Homo sapiens: one gene and its partner. The protein of the gene in region 1 purifies or fractionates together with the protein of each later gene. This does not show direct contact. Each region holds a gene or a part of one and is shown in the gene's direction. Other genes may lie near its edges.

The links. The genes of interacting proteins can lie anywhere in the genome.
Region 2: the proteins of MLC1 (region 1) and KCNJ10 purify together in Homo sapiens (affinity purification with western blotting, with the first as the bait; 2 studies listed by BioGRID). This does not show direct contact.

What each region holds. Positions count from the first base shown.
Region 1 is NC_000022.11:50,082,411-50,089,709, reverse strand, and holds the start of MLC1 (membrane protein MLC1), read left to right. Parts: upstream 1-4,283; 5' UTR 4,284-4,355; exon of another isoform or gene 4,356-4,748; 5' UTR 4,749-4,807; coding exon 4,808-4,984; intron 4,985-6,536; coding exon 6,537-6,626; intron 6,627-7,299. UniProt on the Homo sapiens protein: Transmembrane protein mainly expressed in brain astrocytes that may play a role in transport across the blood-brain and brain-cerebrospinal fluid barriers. Regulates the response of astrocytes to hypo-osmosis by promoting calcium influx.
Region 2 is NC_000001.11:160,067,148-160,075,005, reverse strand, and holds the start of KCNJ10 (ATP-sensitive inward rectifier potassium channel 10), read left to right. Parts: upstream 1-4,845; 5' UTR 4,846-4,984; intron 4,985-7,858. UniProt on the Homo sapiens protein: May be responsible for potassium buffering action of glial cells in the brain. Inward rectifier potassium channels are characterized by a greater tendency to allow potassium to flow into the cell rather than out of it.

The sequences.
Region 1 (7,299 bases):
GGTGTTTTTTATCAAGTTGAGGAAGTTCCCTCTATTCCTGTTTTTCCAAGAGTTCTTATGAGTGGGTGTGAAATTTTCTGCAACGCTTTTCTGCATGTATTCAAATGATCCTGTAGCTTTTTATTTCAGCCCATAGGGAATTACATTGTTTGGCTCTCCTTGGAAAACTCACTTGGTCACGATTCGTTATCCTTTTGGTGTATTGCCTGACTCAGCTTGGTAACGCTTTGTCCAAGGTTGGGGACGGTGCTGGTGAAGCAGATTGCTCTGTGGCCGACCTCCCGTTTTCTGTGTCTGTCTGGTTTGGGGTCGGTTTAAGCCGGGCCTGCAGTGACCTGGGAGTAGGATGGGGTAACTTATTCCCTAAAAATTGTGGTAGTATTCGCTGGGGAACCCATTTGGGCTTCGAGATTTCTTTGTGGGAAGGTTTTTAATGAGAAATTCACTTCTGCATCAGCTAGAGGGCTATTCAAGTTATCAAGGTAATATTGAATAAACTTTGGTAATTCTTTTAAGGAATTTGTCCATTTCATCCAATTATTAGATGTCAGATTATTGGCATAAAGTTGTTCAGCATATTTCCTTATTATCCTTTTAACGTCTGTATGGTCCATAATGATGAGCCATCTTTCATTCTTGACATAGGTAATTTATCTCATCCCTCTCATTTTCCTTGATCAGTCTATATTTATCAATTTTATTGAGTTTTTAAAAAAAATCATCCCTTGATTTCATTGATTTTTCTCTATTTTAAAAATATCTTTACACTTTGCGAGGCCAAGGTGAGCAGATCACTTGAGGTCAGGAGTTCGAGACCAGCCTGGTCAACCTGCCAAAATCCTGTCTCTACAAAAAAATACAAAAAAAATTAGCCAGGCATGGTGGCGCATGCCTGTAATCCCAACTACTTGGGAGGCTGAAGCAGAAGAATCACTTGAACCCAGGAGGTGGAGGTTGCAGTGAGCTGAGATCACACCACTACACTCCAGCCTGGGAGACAGAGCAAGACTCTGCCTCAAAACAAAAACAAAAACAAAATACGTATATATATCTTTACTATTCCAGTGGTTTCTGTTTTTTATTATTTCTTTTTTTTTTTTTTTGAGATGGAGTCCTGCTCCGTCGCCCAGGCTGGAATGCAGTGGCATGATCTTAGCTCACTGTAGCCTCCACCTCCCGGGTTCAAGTGATTCTCCTGCCTCAGCCTCCAGAGCAGCTGGGATTACAGGCGTGCGCCACCACGCTGGCTTTTTTTTTTTTTTTTTTTTTTTTTTTTTTTTGTATTTTTAGTAGCGACAAGGTTTTACCATGTTGGTCAGGCTGGTCTCGAACTTCTGACCCGCAGGTGATCCACCCGCCTTGGCCTCCCGAGTGCTGGGATTACAGGTGTGAGCCACTGCGCCCAGCCCCGACTTATTTTTGATTGACATAGCTTTATTTTCCTAGGTCAGATCTGTCAGTCTGATGACAGCCTGGACCTTGCCTGTCCATGGATGCAGAGTGTACTGATAGTTCTTGCTGTGGGAAGGGAGAGAGTGGCGCACTCCCTAGCATTTCAAATCCCCGCTAAGCCTGTGTCTTGGGCTGGGTGCTGGAACACATACAGGAGCCAGCAGGGTCCCAGGGACCTACTGGTTGGTGGGAGATTAGCTTGGAAACAAGAGCGAGCTGCATGAGGGCTGGTGGCTCATGGGCTCCCTGCCAGGGCAGCTCGCAGCGGGTGCTGTGCCTGCAGGGCTGCCCCTCAGCTCCCCAGCTCGGGCCACTCCCTGGGATTCTGGACTCAGTAGACCCGGCAGATGCCCACAGACATCTCGGCCTCATCATGTCCAGAATGGAACTCCAGATCCTCGCTCCACACCTGCTCCACCCTGGTCTTCTCATCTCTGTCCTCACTGCTCAGACAGAACTCAGCAACGTCGCCCTGACAGCAGATTGCGTCCGCTCTTCAAACCCTGTTCAGAGCCCAGTCCCTCCTCACCACTTGCCCACTGCCACCTCAATGCCAGGCAGCACCTGCTCCTCCCACCCCCCAGCCTGCTCTCCACCCAGTGAGTGACCGGATGCTGCTCTGCCCAGACCCCTCCAGCAGGTCTGTCTCAGAGTTGAAGCAGAGTCGTCTCCATACCCACAGGTGCTGGCACCTGGCTGTCCTACCTGTATCCCCCTTGCATGGTCCTCGCCTGCCTTCCCCAACCTGTGGCCTTTGCTTCAACTCTGCCAGCCTCCCCTCCCTGCCTCCTTCTCACTGAGGCCTGCCCTGGCCCCTGCAAACAGCAGCCCCTCATTTCTCTCCCCTGACTTCTTTTCCCTCATAGAGGAAATCATGTGTGTCACTGGATGCATTAGTCTGTTCTCACGCTGCTATAAGGACATACCCAAGACTGGGTAATTTTAGAGTCAAGTCCTTATAAAGGAAAGAGCTTTAATTGACTCACAGTTCCACAGGGCTGAGGAGGCCTCAGGAAACTTACAATCATGGTGGAAGGGGAAGCAAACATGTCCTTCTTCACAAGGTGGCAGGAAGGAGAAGTCTTGAGCAAAAGCGGGGAAAGCCCCTTATAAAAGACCATCAGATCTCATAAGACCTCACTCATTGTCAGGAGAACAGCAGCATGGGGGTAACCACCCCCATGATTCAATTACCTCCCACCGGGCCCCTTCCACGACATGTAGGAATTATGGGAATTACAATTCAAGATGAGATTTGAGTGGGGACACAGCCAAACCATATCACTGTATAACACACTAATTTGTTTATCCTGTGCACTCCTGTGCCCCCAATGAATGTAAACAGCCTATAGGAAGGACGTCACTTCTTTGTCCACCCCATAAATGTTTGTTGAATGTTGAATGATGATGGGACATCAGCAGGCAGAGGGATGAAGGGCATTTTAGGAGCAAGAATTTGTTGGAAGATTGTATGAAAGAACAGGGCCTGTTCTAGAAACTAGTGTTGCCAACAGAAACTTGGGAGCATTTCTCAAGTGATGACTTATGATCTGGGAAGCTGAGGGATTTGCTCTGCAACCTCTGGTTCAGGGCAGCTTGTTTGTATTTCTAAGTGGAGAGCAACTTTTGAAAGAAAAAAATGTTGAAATCCGATTAACATTTTTTTCCAAACAAAAAGAAACACAGGAGGATTCGATCCAGTTGGACCCACTCCCACTAATCCCGTTTATCGCTTTAAAAGATAGTGAAGTTTGGGAGGTTTCTCAATCCATTAAAATGAGTTCTTGACTTCACAGATTATAGTTTTTGAAAATTATTTCTCATCCTTGCTTGATTGAAATGAAGACAACAGAACATTGGCTGTGGTGGCTGGCACAAAATTAACTAACCCTAAAATACTAGTATAGCTTAAACTTTCGTTTATTGCTAAAAATTTATCACTGCTGTTTCCTGTGGGGGTGAGGTTGAGCAAAGTGTTTTGAGCTGCATTTATGCGTACTTGACACTTACGCATTTTGATCGAGGTGATTTAGTGGGCATTTTCACTGGGACAGGGATGCTTGTATGTGTAATCTTACTAAAAGCTAATAAAAACTTACTAAAAGCTAATAAAAGCTTACTAAAAGCTTCTTGCTTGATTGAAACGAAGACAACAGAACATCCCATGGTCTGGAACCTGATGACTTTGCTCAAGTTTTAATGTGGGTTCATGGTTTAAGGAGCTGGTTTTTCAGAAACTTTAGTTTGAGCCTTTTTACAATGTGCACAAAGAACCCGTTGCTGTAGTTGTCAGGGTGCCAGTGTCTCTGGGCGACACACATTACTGTGGTTTTTCTCTGCTTGGTGAGCAGAGATAAAGGGGGCAGCAGGACCGGGCCCACCAGCCATCCGGGCTGCCCACGCAAACCACAGGGCCGAATCCGGAGCCGCCCAAGGCCACACAGCTAAGCCGAGTGCGTGAATGCTTATGTGACCGTGTGAAGGAGGTTCCCACCGTGTGGCTGTGGGGGATGGAAAAAGGCTACTTGGAAAGATGTAGAAGACCTTCGAGTAAACAGTTACGTTTCAGAAACAGAGCCTGCTCAGAATGTGTACTTGGTGGGATTCTATTCTTAGGGACGCTTCTTTCTTCTGAGAGACCCGAGCTCTGTGGCGAGTGGCACAGGCAGGGCCCCTTCCTTTCCTAGTTGGGTTCTGACAGCTCCGAGGCAGTGGTTTACACAACCAACACGAAACATTTCTACGATCCACCCGATTCCTCCCCTCATTGATATTCAGGAAGCAGCTCTCCTTCCCCTGCCTTCAGCTCAAGTTTGCTGAGCTTTTGTTTCATTTGTGAATACTTCTTGCTGGAAGTCCCTCACCCAGAGACCAGTGCTCCCAACGGCAGAGCAGCGGGGGAGGTAAGTGCTCAGACATTAAGCCGTTGAGTAGAGGCATGTTTTGCAATCTCTCGTTTAGCTACCAATTGGAGCAGTTTAACGTGCTTGAGTCCCCGGCGTGATGTGTTCATGGACGAAGTTGCCGATGGATGTTGTCAGGTGTTGCACCTGGAGGGCCCAGATGGATCAATGAGGCATTTAAAGTGTAGAATCTCACCCTGAACCCAGACTATTCAGGTCCGTTTTTCTAGGAAAGTTATTTCTTTTTCACTTTTAGATTCAAGTGCTCATTTTCTTCTTCAAATTTAGAGCACTTCAGTATGAACAATATTTCTTTTGTTAAAAAATATTTCTTGGAAACAACTTATTGAAGTTTCCTCAGAGTGGCCAAAGCCGATGATAATTTTATTCCAGATAAAGAACTGGTGACACGTGGCTGTACATTCAGCACAGCTGTGGTGTCCCCAAGTGCCATGACCCAGGAGCCATTCAGAGAGGAGCTGGCCTATGACCGGATGCCCACGCTGGAGCGGGGCCGGCAAGACCCCGCCAGCTATGCCCCAGACGCGAAGCCGAGCGACCTGCAGCTGTCGAAGAGACTGCCCCCCTGCTTCAGCCACAAGACGTGGGTCTTCTCTGTGCTGATGGGGGTGAGTAGCTCCACACTAAGCCCTTGGAGGGCCACGAGCATCTGGTCCCTCTGGTGACGGACTGCAGCGCCCTGGAGCCCCAGGTGGGACAGAGAGAGCAACTCTCAGACTAACCCTGCTGCTGCAGAACTCTTGGATGCCGACGAGCTTGTTTTGCTTGTGTTTTCACAATTATTTTTATTAATTTATGGGTGTCTGTTGTGCCAGCCTTGAGCTGCTCCAGGTTGTGGCTTAGTCCCACCAGGGTAGGGACAGTCCCAGGGCCATGAATGGGCCCCAGGAGTCTCCATGACCCTCGGCTCTGGGGGCCCAGGGTCCTCTGAGGGGTCACCTGCAAAGGTGGGAGGAGGCGTCTCAGGCCTTCAGGTCGGCCCTCACAGAGAGAACCTCAGGGACCTCCTCCTCCTAGGGAGGGCCTCAGGGGCCGGCTGGGAGGGAGCTGGGGAACAAAGGAACAGGTCTGGGGTGGACGGGCAGCGCCAGATGTCCGAGGGATTTCCCTGGGGTCCTGGCCATTCCCTGCACAGTCGTGGGCACAGAGATGATTGGAGGAGCCACTTGGGCCTGAGTGTGTGCAGCTGCTCAGAGCCATGCTGCAGGACAGGCCTCTATGCAGGGACCCCCGGTTCCGTGTAGCTTGGGCTGAGAATGAGATCCAGGCTGTGATTTCTCCCCTCCCTGTGCCCTGGCCTCCGCCGGCAGCCCCTGCAGCACCCACAGTGGTCCTGCCCACCTCCCGTGGCCTGAGCATGCCCCACCAAGACAGGCGTCTGCCTCGGAGCTGGGGACAGAGGCGGCTCCCGGGTGGTGGTGGCCATCTCCGGGCTCTGCCCTCCTCCACCTGGTGCCCTGGACTTGGTCGCAGCCCCTCCCCCGCCCAGGCCAGATCCCCTCTGCCCCAGACCTCGCTTCCTCTGCCAGGACCCTGGGTCCCAGTGACCTTTGATACTGACTCCCCTCAGACTCACCCCGGGGGTGCTGTGCGTGAGAGAGAGCCCCCTCCCCACCGCACCCCTGCAGTGCTGTGCGTGAGAGAGAGCACCCTCCCTGCCTCCTGCTAGGGTCTTCCCTGCTCAGGAGCCCCTGGGCCTGGAGCCCCTGCCTGGAGGGATCTTCTTCCAGATCTGGAAATTAGGTTCTGCAGACGGAGGGGGATGGGCAGTTGTTTTCCAGTCTCGTGTCTGGACCTGGGTGTGGGATCTGGAAGACTGCACGCACAACATGTTGGGGCAGGAGTATTTTGTGGGGAGAGGTGCCATTCCTTGCTCTAAATATTGGCAGATCCCCTTTCTTCTCTCCTCCAGATAACAGCGTGGGGGGTCCATGCTCCGACATGGCTGGGGGAGGCTGGTCCATGTCCTGGGCTGCGGCGGGGCTGCGTCTGTCCTACAGGAGGAGTCCAGGATGGGCGGGTCCCAGGTGCGGGTGTGGTTGATGCTGGGGGACGTGGGTGAGTCACCAATACACAGACAGTGAAGCAGAAGTTGAAGGGTCAGGGTCCAGCCTGGGGACGGGGCGCGTTGTAACCTGGGATTCTGTCGCTGTCTTGCAGAGCTGCCTCCTGGTGACCTCGGGGTTTTCGCTGTACCTGGGGAACGTGTTCCCGGCTGAGATGGATTACTTGCGCTGTGCTGCAGGCTCTGTAAGCAGCTTCCTCCACGCCTCTGCCAGTGCCCAAGCTCGCCGGCACGTGCTCTGGTTTCTTTGTTCTGAGATGTGCAGGTTTCTGTCACCTGTACCTCATTCAAACCTCTTCATATGGGCCGGGCACAGTGGCTCATGGCTGTCATGCCAGCACTTTGAGGGGTGGAGGTGGGTGGATCACCTGAGGTCAGGTGTTTGAGACCAGTCTGACCAACATGGACAAACCCCATCTCTACTAAAAATACAAAAATTAGCTGGGCGCGGTGGTGGGTGCCTGTACTCCCAGCTACTCAGGAGGCTGAGGCAGGAGAATCGCTTGAACCTGGGAGGCGGAGGTTGCAGTGAGCCCAGATTGTGCCACTGCACTCCAGCCTGGGCAATGAGAGTGAAACTTCGTCTCAAAACAACAACAACAAGAAAAAAACAAAAAACTCTTCATATGACTTTAGTTTCACGTAGAGTTCATCACCTTTGAGAATTACTGATGAAGCAGGCCTGAACCTTGCTCTGCAGACGCCTGTGCAGGGAATTGCGTGTTGATTCTGAGCCTGCGGCTGCGTCCTGCCAGAGCTGGCAGCATCTGCCCTCAGGGGACTGGGACCTGTGCCCCACATCCTCCCAAAGCTTCATGTTGTGTTTTTAGAAACTTACACAGTGCCAAGGCCGGTGGA
Region 2 (7,858 bases), on another chromosome or scaffold:
GTGAAGAGTAAAGGTCACTTGTAGTTTTTTATTCTAATTGACCAGGAGTAACACAGAACTAAGGAAGTCACGAGCACTTCCACCTTTGGGGAGGAAGGTACTGAGTTCAGTTTGGGGCCTGTCAAGTCAAGATGGAAATCCCCTGCAAGCAACTAGAAATATGGAGCTCCAAAAAGAGTGTAGGATTGAAGATAGAGATTTGGGCATCACTCAGGGACAATCGTTGGAGCTATGTAAATGACAAAGGCTCAAGGGGCAAGACACAGAAAGAGAACATAAGGCTGAACCTTGAGTGTTAAAAGAAGTAGCTGTAGCTTTGGGTGTATAGGGGCAGTGGAAGAAGATAAGGCTGGAATGGCACCAGGTCCAGGTTATAATAGGCCTTCTCTTCCAGGGAAAGGAACTCGGACTTTACTTATAGATAGTTGGCAGTTACTGAAGGTTTTAAAACTTGGAAGTGGTACGGTCAGATGTGTGTTTCAGAGAGATGTACTTTACTGGTGCTTAATTACTTTCAAATAAAGAAATTCATAATCCAAAGAATTATTAGAGTGGAGGAAGACTGGAGGCAGGGAGAGTAGTTAGAAGGCTGCTGCAGTAGCCCTGGTGTATTAGGCCATTCTTGCATTGCTATAATGAAATACCTGAGATAGGCCATGGTGGCTCAAGCCTGTAATCCAGCATTTTGGGAGGCTGAGGTGGGAGGACTGCTTGAGCTCACAAGTTCAAGACCATCCTGATCTACATAGCGATTCTTCGTCTCTACTGAAAGTTAAAAAAAAAAAAAAATAGCTGGGTGTAATGGTGAACACCTGTAGTTCCAGCTACGTTTGAGGTTGAGGCAGGAAGACTACTTCAGCACAGGAGTTCAGGGTTGCAGTGAGCTGTGATCACACCACTGCACTCCAGCCTAGGGGACAGAGTGAAACCCTGTCTCAAAAAAAAAAAAAAGATTAAAAATTAAAAAAAAAAAAACCCAGAGAGTGGGTAATTTATAAAGAAAAAAGGTTTAATTGGCACACAGTTCTGCAGGATTTACAGGAAGCATGGTGCTGACATCTGCTCAGCTTCTCAGGAGACCTCAGGAAGCTTTTACTTGTGGTGGAAGGCAAAGCAGGAGCAGGCACATCACATGGCAAAAGCAGGAGCAAGAGAGAGTTGATGATGGGGGATGTTGCCATATACTTTTAAACACCCAGATCTCACGAGAACTCACTATCATGAAGATAGCACCAAGCCGCTGAGGGACCTGCCCCCATGATCAAAACACCTCCCACCAGGCCCATGTCCAGCATTGGCATTAAAATCCAGCATGAAATTTGAGCAGGATCAAAGATCCAAACTATTATTACCTGGTGAGAGGTAATGGTGTCCTAGACTACAGCAATGATAGTGGAATAGAGAGGAAGGGGACAATATTGAGGCTATTTAGAATACAGATGCATTGATTCAATAAGGGAGATGAGGTGAGGAAGATTGAAGAATCTAGGATGGCTGCCATGTTTCTGGTTGGGTGATGATAGTGTATCTACCATGGTAGAGAATAAATGGAGAGGAGCACTCTTGTGAGCAAGGTGACATGTTCGACTTTAAATATGTTGAGTTTGAAATGGATATCCGGGTGGGCTGGACATATTGACACATGGGTGGTAGTTGAAGCTAAATGGATGGATAACATTTTTGGAAAAATAATAAGTGCACAATAAATGTCTGTTAATGATCCATAAATCATTACAGTCCCTTTGCTTTCTCTTCTGTGGTGTTCTTCATGTTTATTTTGGAGTTCCACCAGAGCCTCCAAGCTAAGCTTGTCCAACCCACCGCCTGTGGGCTGCATGCAGCCCAGGACAGCTTTGAATGAGGCCCAACACAAATTTGTAAACTTTCTTAAAACATCATGAGGGTTTTTTTTGTGATTTTTTTTTTTTAAAGCTCATCAGCTACTGTTAGTGTTAGTGTATTTTATGTGTGGCCCAAGACAATTCTTCTTCTTCCAATGTGGCCCAGGGAAACCAAAAAATTGGACACCCCTGCCTAAGTCCTCTCTGTCTGTGAATGTCAAGACTGTGGCCCCCTTAAGGATCTTTTGGATGTCCTATTTTTTGAAACTTAAAGGTCTTATACCAGTCTTGCAGGCTGGCCCTCAGACCACCTCACCACAGCCCCTCATCCATATTGACTTAGGAAGAGAGGGCATTCGGAGTGTGAAGAAGAAAAACTGGAAGACTGTTTCTTTTTCTTTTTATTTTGTGTTTTGTTTTGTTTTGTTTTTGGAGACAGAGTCTAGCTCTGTCCCCCAGGCTGGAGTGCAGTGGCGTGATCTCGGCTCACTGCAACCTCTGCCTCCCAGGTTCAAGCGATTCACATGCCTCAGTCTCCCAAGTAGCTGGGATTACAGGCGCGTGCCACCAGGCCCGGCTAATTTTTGTATTTTTAGTAGAGATGGGTTTTTGCCATGTTGGCCAGGCTGGTCTCAAACTCCTGACCTCAGGTGATCCACCCACCTTGGCCTCCCAAAGTGCTGGGATTACAGGCATGAGCCACCTGGCCTGGCCTGTTTCTAGTACATTGTCTGGTTTCTATTTCTCTCCTCTCTATGAGTAGAGTTCTCAAAAGTGTAACCTATACTTGCTGACAGTTTCTCACTTTCTAGTGGTAACTTGTAATCTGGTTCCCACCTTGCTCACTCTTCTGAAATTGCTCTCAAATGTCACTAGAGACTTTGTCACTGCCAAACCCAATGCCTCTTCTCTCTGTACTTGTTGGCACTGTTAGAACCTCCTCCTTAACAGTCTCTCCTTCCTTAGCTCCATGACATCTCACTTTCTTTGTCTCCTTCCTGCCTGTCTGGTGGATTCTCTTTCACTCTTTGGGGGTCCTTCTTCTTCCCATCCCCTAAACATAGGTGTTCCTCACTCTCTGTGCCAGGCTCTCATTTCTCTGTGCAGTCTTTGTTGGGATCTACCCTGTTCTCATAGCTTCAACTCACACTGCCCTGGCAGCAATGACCTCCTTTCTCTCTCTGGTTCTGACCCCTCTCCACAGCTTCCAGCTCTGAACTCATCACTTCCTCTTCCCCCACCTCAGTCTCCTCACCAGGTGTGATCCCCCCCAGGCTCCCCTATGCCCGTGAATGACCTCGCAGTTCTGATCACCTGACTTGAGACTCTAGTATGATCTCTGAAGCTTCCCTCTTTTGCTCAACATGTCAAGTTGGCTTCAAACTTTTTTCATTTTCTTTTGATTTTTCTGTACTCCAATTCATTTTCTGTGTTCCACTTTTCACCATTGCCACGCTGATTTGGGCTGTCATCTCTTCATGCTTATATTATTGCAATTATTTTCTATCGTCTACTTGCCTACTATATCCACTTGGTTCAAACTATTTTGTCACCTCCCGATTAATTTTCCTAAAATGCCATAGCTTTCTCCTACTCCATCCTTCCCAAGAACCTTCAATTGCTCTCCGTAGCCTACAGAAACTCTGGCCTGACCACAAATCAGCACAACTCTGTGTTTCTTCCGGATGTTCCCCTTAACACAAACACTGCCTATGGTGCCTAACCTTTAGTCCCGTCCTTCCAGCTTCTCCAATGAGGCTATTTGAATGGACATTTACTTATCTTATGGCTTTTAGTGGTTAAACTAAGCTACATTCCTAGTTTCTTTCCTTTTTTTACCTGAATTTATAGCAATTCAATATGGTAACACTGGTTATTGATTAGCAGTTAAATGTTTATGATGATCAGAAATGAGGAAATAATTATATTCTTTTTAAATAAATGCTGGGGGTGGGGGTGAATTAAAACCTCTCAACACATAGATTCAGAAAATTAAAGAAATCTTTGGTGATGAAAGGGTTGAGAACCATCACCCTGCACTCTAATCTAGTAAATGGGACAGTTTGATGCTGTTTCCCAAGTGAACTTGTATTTTCACGTCTCCCCAGGACTCTGCTACGTTGTTCCCTCTGCCTTAAATGCAACAGAGTCCTGGGGACCATCTCTCAGCACCTGAATCTTCTGCTTCCTTTGGGACCCTAATCAGATGTTACCTCTTTCCTCCCACATCTGCTAGGAGCCCTCTGAGTAGAATGACCTCTCCCTTTTACAGCCTTCAGTACCTCCCGCACTTCGCTGAGGGTTCCGGCCTTATCTTTCCTTACAGAGAAAGCCGCTGCAGGTGGGCACCGTGTGCTGCGCGTCTCTCACCCAGCACCGCACCGGGGACTTAGGAGACGGTGAACAACACGGGAATTGTGCCCAAAGATACAGTCCTGTGGCTCAGGGAGCCCAGGCCTACTCCGCCCCAATCTCACTTCCAGGCGCCGCCTTCGGCGCTGCCTGCAGGGCCACTGGGCCGGTCCTGAATTCATTTCCACTTCGTTAACTCGGTCCCAGTCCCGCCCCCCGGCTCCAGCTCTCGTAACCCATCGCTGACAGGACCGCCTCCCTTTTCTTCCTTCTCCCTTCCCCTGTCACCCTGCCAGCTCAGCTCCTATCGTTTCGCATATCGTCTCTTCATCTCTCTTTCTCCCCGGGTCTGTCTGGGTCTCTGTCTTTGGATATTTCTCTCTGCGCCTGCAGCTGTCTGGGTCTCCGCTTCCTTGCCCCGCACGCCCCGCCCCCTGCCCAAGACCCTCCAATCTCGGCGGCTCGAGCCTGGCGCTCCACTCTCCCATTGGTCTGTTCGGAGCCCCCCGCCCCCGCCTGCCCGGCCCCCCTCCGGGCCCCTCCATTCACACAAAGTTTGGCTCCGGCGCTGCGGAGGGAGGGGGCGGCCCGGCCCGGCCCAGCTCTGCCCCCGGCCGGCCCGACCCCGGCCCCGGCCCCCGGACAAGCCCTTATCTGATCCCAGCTCCGGGTTTAAGAGTCCTGGCCCGGCCCGTCGCACAGCTCTGCTCCTAACTCCTGCCCGCCCCGTCCGTCCATCTGTCCCGCTGCCCCGCGGCCCATCCAAGGGGCCACTCCACCTCGGACCCAAGGTAAGACCCTGGCCCTGATGAAGGAGTTCTGCCGCCCCGGCCGGGTCCTGTCCCCCTAACTCTCCAGAGACATCGGGGTCCCAGATCCTCAGTCCCTACCCTGCCTGGCCTCAGCGGTACCACCGTCTTGTTCCCCTGCCTCCCGCCTTGGGCAGTCCCAAATGGAGCCTCCTGGGAAGGGCTCCCCACGAGGAAACTAGCCAGGCTGGTCACCTCAGCCCTTTCATCTAAGGAAGGGGCTTTCCCGATGCCCCCTCCCACTGGGCAGACCAGCAGTTGCATCCCTGCTCCTCTAGTTAATACAGTGACAACCACACATAACCAGGCACCCCATACACAGGCACAACAGACAGTGCGCCCTCCTCCCCATATGGACAGGTTACTCCCATCCCCAGCCCCTCCCCCACTCCCCATACAGTGACAATCACATAGTGACACCCATGATCGCTAGTTCCCACATGGGGAGAAAAACAGATACTGGCAGCTTAAACCGGGGAGCCACCAAAGCCTGGTGTGCTCCAGACCCCTGCCCACCCAATCTCTTCCTTCTATTCTGAGTGGCTCCCATTTTAAGACATCCCTCCTCATGGCCCCTCACCCTCACCCCAGCTGTTTCGCACTGGGATTTCCAGAAGGAAAGGAGCAGGGCCACTTCTGCTAGAGTGAGAAGGGCAGATTGGGTTCTATAAACTCACCCTCCAGATGGAGACGCCCCTTCCCATTCCATTCCTCCTCTCATCAGAACTAACCCAGGGCACCTGTGTTAGGGAACAGATGAAGGATGGAACTTCCTGATTTGGGGGAGGAGAGCTGAACCCAGGAATGGGTAGAAGGACAACACTGGGAAAAAGTGAGGGTGGGTTCTGGTGTCTTGAAGTTTAATTCCAGTGAGTGCCCCAGGCAGGGTGAGGCAGATGGGGAAGAAGCTGGTGCAGATTTGGACCCCAAAGAGGCCAGTGCTTAAAGCCTGCTTCTGTTGCTTACCAATACAAATTCTGACTAAAGATGTCTGGCCAGTCTGCTCTTGCTGTGGTGTTTGAATTTTTTTTCTCCCCACTGGGACTGCTTTAGGCTGCCTGGGTGGGAGGGAGATAATGACAGGAGATTTAGGGCCCCCATGTGAGAGATGGCCTTGTTTAAGGGTGCTGAGGAGGGCCTGGAGTGGTTGTCATGAAATTAGCCCCAGGAGGGGTGGGCAGCCACCAGTGAGTTCAATTTAGTTTCATCCTGAAACTCTCTCCCTAATCTCCAAGGATTTTTGAACATATTCCTGGCATGATGGTGGGTACCATCCTGTGCCAAGTGGTAGGGCTTGTAAATTTCTCTGGGGGTAGACTGGGTATAGGGGACCAAGTTTGGAAGGAACCAGGCATCCTGACTCATAGCTGGTTCTTCAGGGAGGAAGAAACGAGGGAGGAGGGGGATGGAAGGCATCATGCCAGGGAGAGGGTCCAGGGCTGGATTGTGGAGGCAATAGGCACGGCCCAGGCAGTGCCAACTCCTTTCCCCGCTGCCTTCCCCCAGTCCTTTGGTGGTGGTGGCAAGGGAGGAAGGGAGGGAGAGGGTGTTGGGGGGTGATCTGGGCTGGTCCAGCCTCCCAAAGCCCTTGCCAACCTGGGTCCTGAAAGGAGCTGCTGTTTTCTGAGCCATCCCCCCACCCCCCACTCAGAGCCTGAGCAGCCAAGTTGTCTCAGCGGATATCAAATGGCAATGACTCCACCGATGGAGGGTGGGTGGGGAGTGGGAGTGGCAGGGGTAGCAGGGTTATGGTTCCAGCCCCTCTGTGGCTCTAATGCAGAACCCCTCTGCTATCCCTTACCCTGAGGAAAAAATAAATCCATCTTCCCCAACATCTGACCCACATCCAGTCTATGGGTGCATATGTTTGTGTGAGGGGATTAATGATCTGCCCGCTGGTATCCCCTACCTCCTCCGTGTGCCCCATTGAACCACATTCTAGCTCCCTCCCACCTGCATCACTGTGCATAAGCTCATTTACAGCTCCAGCTTGGTTGGCTTGAGCTACAAGGAAGTGACTGGCAGAGGACCCGGGGACCTTCCTTCCCTTGACCTTCCTTGGGACCAGAGAGGCTGGGACACTTGGATCACGGTGGGCTCAGATGAAGTCCTCTGGAGTCATTCTGTGATTGGCAGGATAGGGGGTTTAAAGCTCTAGGGGGTGGGTCATGCAGAAAGATCTGTTTCCTCAAAGGATACTCCTGAGCCTCCTGGTAAAACTCTTGGTTTCTGCACACAAGATGGAAAGATAGGCCGAGCCTCCTGGCATTGGTGGGGAGGAAAAGAGACATTGGGCAATGGAGTCCCTAAGCTTTCCAGCCACAGGTTATTTAGGACGGAAGAAAAAAACCTCCACTCTCCCTCCCCTCCTCGGCCTAGATTCTTCTCTTGCCTGACTGGTCAGTGCTACTGTCCAGGCTGAGGCCAAGCTGTCCAGGATAGCAGTGGGGCCCTGGAAGGGGGCAGAGAAGGAATCAGCCAAGGCACATCGTTGAGATGAAACTACAGAAAGATTGGAGAGGAAAGGGAGATTTAAAATCTAAGTGTTTTAGCACCCAATGGTGGGTGGTTGGCTGGGCAGCTCCTGGGAATGGGAGTTTGCCATGTCACTTCGGTCTCTCCAGCAGGCTGAGTTCAATGCTTTTCTTCCCTCATTTGAGTTTAGCCTACATGTTTGCCACCATTCTTTAGGGAGAGAGTGCATCTGGTGGCCCCTCTTCCTCCCCTCCCCCATCAGAACCTTGAAAGGGCAAAGAGAAAGGGATTGTGGGAAATGCCCTCCCGTGGGTGTTTGCCAGCTTGGAGCCTGGATTTGAGGTGGTGGGGGAAGGGAGGGGCTGGCTCTGGAATGTGAGA